Linked DNA regions of Homo sapiens: region 1 is linked to region 2. A link means that fine-mapping ties the variant in region 2 to the expression of a gene that starts in the linked region. Tissue or cell type: whole blood. Region 2 holds a variant in brackets; the other region holds the start of a gene. All regions are shown on one strand. Distances are between the middles of the regions.

The links. PIP is the estimated chance that this variant, and not a neighbour inherited with it, causes the effect.
Region 1: it holds the start of MYADM, and the variant in region 2 is fine-mapped to the expression of MYADM in whole blood (INTERVAL, PIP 0.92).

What each region holds. Positions count from the first base shown.
Region 1 is chr19:53,866,340-53,868,977 of GRCh38, forward strand. MYADM (myeloid associated differentiation marker) reads left to right here and starts at 1,544. Exons shown (of 3, transcript NM_138373.5): 1 at 1,544-1,604. MYADM-AS1 (MYADM antisense RNA 1) reads right to left here. Exons shown (of 3, transcript NR_184033.1): 1 at 2,570-2,638. RefSeq lists enhancers at 349-1,324, 2,434-2,638.
Region 2 is chr19:53,827,597-53,830,434 of GRCh38, forward strand. No RefSeq gene overlaps it. Among named protein-coding and RNA genes, the nearest start is that of NLRP12, 4.7 kb to the left of the region's middle. RefSeq lists an enhancer at 1,959-2,728. The variant G/GT (reference allele first, on the strand shown) is at 1,516.

The sequences.
Region 1 (2,638 bases), 39 kb after region 2:
GAGCATCCGCAGCCGCCACCAGGCCCCGCCCAGCGGCCGCAGCCAGCCAGGCCGCGCCCGGGACGACTGCAGAGCGCGGTGAGTGAACGCGGCCAGAGGGAGGGACTCAGGCGTCCCAGGTCCCCGCCCTGCCCCTCCCCGGGGGCCCGACATCCCGACCCTCAGCTCCCTCTTTTTCTTTTGGCTCCGGCAGTCCGTTTTAGGGCCGCAGAGCCGCCTTTTAAAAACACACCCTGCATCCCTTCCCTGCCCTGGGGCTTCGGGCCCACCAGCCCCTTGGATCCCTTCCCCTCTTGCAGGATCCGTGAATCCAGAGCCCCAAGCCCCAGCCCCAGCCCCATCCTCATTAAAATTCTGAGTCCCTCCCTCCATCCAGGAGTCAGGAATGTAGGCCAAAAATATCGCTGCCTTCCAGACCCAGGCGGCTAGGCTTGCAACACCTGCTCGGAAAACCCGAGTCTGAGCTTTAATGGTTCTATTATGATGATCATGATGATTTATTTTTAATAGAGCAGAGTCTCCTTATGTTGCCCAGGCTGGTCTCGAACTCCTGGGCTCAAGGGATCCTCCCTCCTCAGCCTCCCGAAATGCTGGGATTACAGGCGTGAGCCACCGCGCCCAGGCCTGATTGTTCTTTTGAGCCAAGAATCTGGGCCTCAGCCTAGGCATCCTGTGGAGCCCAGGAATCCGGGCCCCCAACTGCTACCGCGCTAGCTCCCAGGAATTTTGCCCCCAACACACCCCACCCCTATCCACTGTGATATCTGAGACCTGCGTCCAGCCCGAGTCCCTTACCCTGCGGCGCCCGGTGCCAGTGGGTACTAGGGGAGCATTTTGCCGCCCCTTCAAGTCCTTAAATACAGGAATCTAGCCTCTGTTTCTTGGGGAGACCCATCAGTCAGGGATCGTAGCCCAGAACCACCTAAAGCCCAGGAATACTGCTCTCAATTCTGCTCTCCCTCAGGGCTCCAAGAGACAGAGATCCTAGCCCCCCCATTGAACTGAGGGGCCTGGTCCCCCAATCCGCTGCGACCCAGGTGTCTAAGGTTTCATCCGGCAAGGAAGGGGTGGGGGCGGAACAGACCAGGAAGGAGGGGGTAGGAAGGGAGCGGAAGAAAGGAGTGAGGTGAGACGGGGGCGGGGACCTGAGCTGGGGGGCTCTGCACTAAACAAACCCTAAACATGCGGGGTTTCTATGGTAACGGTCTTCCCTGGCCTACCCGGGAGACTCCTCTAGGGCTGTGTCGAGGAGGGCAGCCCCCAGGAGTCTCCACGCCGCCAGCTGTTGTGTCTTCCTGTTTTGTCACCACGGCAACCGTGACCTCAGCCCTCCACCCTGCTCACTGGGGTGGGGCGGGAGCTCCACGCTACTTTTACTCTGGGGGGCGTGGTCTGCTCTTGGCCCCGCCTCGGGGCGGGGCTGGGATAGCCCAGACTCGGGGAAGTCCCTGTCCACCGCCCTAGCCGGAGCTGCGCCCCGCCCCGGCCCCGCCCCCGTCCCGCCCGCGCTGGCTCCCCAGCCCTCCAACCCCACCCAGCCCTCAGACCCTTCCAGCTGCCGCTGTCGTCTTTGCTTCAGCCGCAGTCGCCACTGGCTGCCTGAGGTGAGGTTGTGGGGACCCCAGAGGGCATAAGCAACAGTCTAGGGTCTTTATGGCCAGAGAGAGGAATGGGCTGGGTCTCAGAATGTCTGGGTCCCTAGAAAGACTGGGGCTGGGCCAGGATTCTTGGGGTTCTGCAGAGGAGAGGGCTGAGGACCTGGACTGTGGAGGTCATACGTCTGGAAGAGTGGGGAAGGGGACCTGGACTCCGGGGTCTGAGGGAGGAGGGGCTGGGGGTCTGGACTCCCGGGTCCGAGGCAGGAGGGGCTGGGGGGTCTGGACTCCTGGGTCCGAGGGAGGAGGGGCTGAGGGCCTGGACTCCTGGGTCTGAGGGAGGAGGAGCTGGGCCTGGACTCCTGAGTCTGAGGGAGGAGGGGCTGGGTCTGCGGGAGTAGAGAGATGGGGACTCGTAGGTGCCCTAGTTGGAGGCTGGAATCTGGTACGTGGAGGTCCTTTAGGAGGGGAAGCGCTTAGGGTTAGGTGTCCTGGGTTTGGGAATGAGAATGGAAGGAATTCAGAATTACTGACCCCTCCCCATCCAGGGGACAGACAGAATCGGAACTTTGGGCTCCTGAAAGGCCGAGGGAGGGGGGTGTTAAGATCCAGCCCCGTGCTTCCGAAGTGCAGAAGGAGCTGGGAAAGGAGGAGAAGACAGGGCTGCGTCCCGCACCTCTGGGTGCCGAGAGCCGAAGCTGGGGTTCCGGGGCCCGATTCTCAGCGTGAGCGATGGGTGTGGCGTCTGGAGTGGACGAGGGAGGACACTGAGGGGCTGGGTGTGGCCCGGAGAGTCGGGTGCGCTGCGAGGAATCCCGGAGGGGTGTTTCCTCACCCTCCAGGGTCTGGCTGCGCATTCCTGAGCTCTGATCTCGGGCGATGGCTGGAGGCCCTAAGGGCGGGGTGGACCCCTCCCCTCCCCTCCCCTCGGCGCGCCCCCCTCCCCTGCGCGCCCCCCTCCGCGGCTAGCCCACCTTCCGCGGGGGACAGAATGAGTGACGCCCTCGCTCGTCCTCCTCCCCTGCTTGGGACGGGGCAGTAGC
Region 2 (2,838 bases):
ACCATCTCAAATAAATAAATAAATAAATAAATAAATAATAGAAGTTGTCACCACCACCTGCTTGCCACTCCCTTGAATTCTTTCCTGTGTGAAGCCAAGAACTATCCCGGGGTAAGCCCTGTTTTGGGGCCTCACTTGCCTAGCATCACAAGGATAAACCCATTCAAAGCAGGTGCTAATTTGCCCTGTTGGTTTTCAACTAGAAGAGAAATTATTATCATCAGGGACATTTATAAAAATTATATATAGAAGGCTGGGTGTGGTGGCTCACGCCTGTAGTCCCAGCACTTTCGGAGGCCAAGGTGGGCAGATCACTTGAGGTCAGGAGTTTGAGACCAGCCCGGCCAACATGGCGAAACCCCGTCTCTACTAAAAATACAAAAATTAGCCGGATGTGCTATCGCGCACCTGTAATTCCAGCTACTCGGGGGGCTGAGGCACGAGAATCACTTGAACCTTGGAGGTGGAGGTTGCAGTGAGCCGAGATCACGCCACTGCACTCCAGCCTGGGTGACTGAGTGAGACTCTGTCTCAACAACAACAACAAATTAAAAATAAAAAAATAAATAAAAATACAAAAATTATCCAGGCATGGTGGCGTGTGCCTGTAATCCCAGCTACTCGGGAGGCTGTGGCAGGACAATCTCCTGAACCTGGGAGGCGGAGGTTGCAGTAAGCCGAGATCACACCACTGCACTCCAGCCTGGGCCACAGAGTGAGACTCCGTCTCAAAAAAAAAAATTATATATAGATGAAATATTTTATATACATTACAATAAGAATTATAAATATATAAATATGTATATGAAATTGGTCCCTCTCTAGACTTCCTGAATCAGGATCTTGGTGGGGCAGGGGCCATCAAACATATGTTTCTTTTTCCTTTTTTTCTTATATTAATTTTTTGAATAGAGATGAGGTCTCACTATGTTGCCCAAGCTGGTCTGGAACACCTGAGCTCAAGTGATCCTCCCACCTCAGCCTCCCAAAGTGCTGGGATTACAAGTGTGAACCACCACGCCTGGCTAAATACATGTTTTTATAATATAAAGCTCCCCTAGTGATTCTGCTGAGAAACATTTCTCTGTGTTAGTACTAGAAAGGCACAGAGAAATGCTTGTTTTTCTATCAGCAGAATTTCCCTTTTGCCATTCCGGAAGAGACCTGTTTCCTTTGAGGGAATACTTTGAGAAGTCACTTGAGTATGAAATCTGTTAACTGGAGAAATTTTGCAGTATGGTGTTTGCTTGTTTGCAGGTAAAACTAAATCATTCAGGATAAAAAGGCATTTTAGAAGCCACGTGGGGAAAGGCAGAAGGAAAGGAAATAGGAGGTGTCAGGTGCCTGGGAAGAACATTTGGAGGGTTTATGGAGATGAGTAATAGGAATTTAAATTGCTTTACTATATGGTGTACGATGAAAACTGTCTTCTACCCCAACCAAACCCATCATCAGTAAAACCTATGCTGCTCGCTAGCACGTTGTGAACATGGATTTGCTGCGTTTTTTTGTTTT[G/GT]TTTTTTTGCTTTTTCTGAGACAGTTTCGCTCTTTCTGCCCAGGCTGGAGTGCAATGGCGCCATCTTGGCTCACTGCAATCTCCTCTTCTCGGGTTCAAGCGATTCTCGTGCCTCAGCCTCCAAGTAGCTGGGACCACAGGCGCGTGCCACTACACCCGGCTAATTTTTGTATTTTTAGTAGAGACAGGGTTTCACTGTGTTGGTCAGGCTGGTCTCAAACTCCTGACCTCAGGTGATCTACCTGCCTCGGCCTCCCAAAGTGCTGGGATTACAGGCGTGAGCCACCATGCCTGGCCTGATTTGCTTTTACAGGCAGTGTGACAAAATGGTGTCTCTAACTGGCATTGAATGACTGTCCCGTGGGAGGCCACATCTGAGGTTTCTGTGCCTCTTTGTTGTCACATAGAGAGGATACCGAGTGCTACCCACTGTTCCCATGACCATCACCAGCATCACTAGCTCACCACGAACTGGCTAGAAAATGGAAATCATCATTCTCCACCTATGAATGGGGAAACTGAGGCTGAGAGGGAAGCTCTGAGTGTGTGGCCTACACAGCAGTGCTGGAAAATGATGGAGACGACTCTGAAAGCCAGTTCTGGCTCCAAACTTCAAGCAGCTAAAATCCTCATCAGCTTGTACAATGAGGCCAACCCTCCAATTTGAAAGAGGGATAGACTGAGGTCCAAAGTAGCAAAGTCACCTGCAGACCATCATATAGCACTCAAAAGTTGCCCAGGGGCTGCTAGGATGCAGTCTTCTTCTTCCTTTTTTTTTTTTTTTCTAATGAGATGGAGTCTTGCTCTGTCACAAGGCTGGAGTGCAGTGATGTTATCTCAGCTCACTGCAACCTCCACCTCCTGGGTTCAAGCAATTCTCCTGTCTCCGCATCCCGGGTAGCTGCGATTACAGGCACCTGCCACCACTCCCAGCTAATTTTTGTATTTTTAGTAGAGACGGATGATCTCGATCTCCTGACCTCGTGATCCACCCGCCTCGGCCTTCCAAAGTGCTGGGGTTACAGGCGTGAGCCACCGCGCCCAGCCACAGTCACTTTCATCAGGGCCTGAGTGTAGGGGTTGTGAAACTTCCTCCCCTGTGAGCTATGTCCTCACTTTTACCACAGACCCTGGCAGGAAACATCCTGGCTGTGACTTTCCCTGTGGGTTTTAGGAACAGTTGCACAGGGTCCAGCCCCACCACAGGCTCCACTACCCTTGCCCTGATCAATCGGGAAGATTCAGCCACAGCTGATGGTACTAAAACTTTGGTTTTTTTTTTTTTTTGAGATGGAATCTCACTCTGTTGCCCAGACTGGAGTG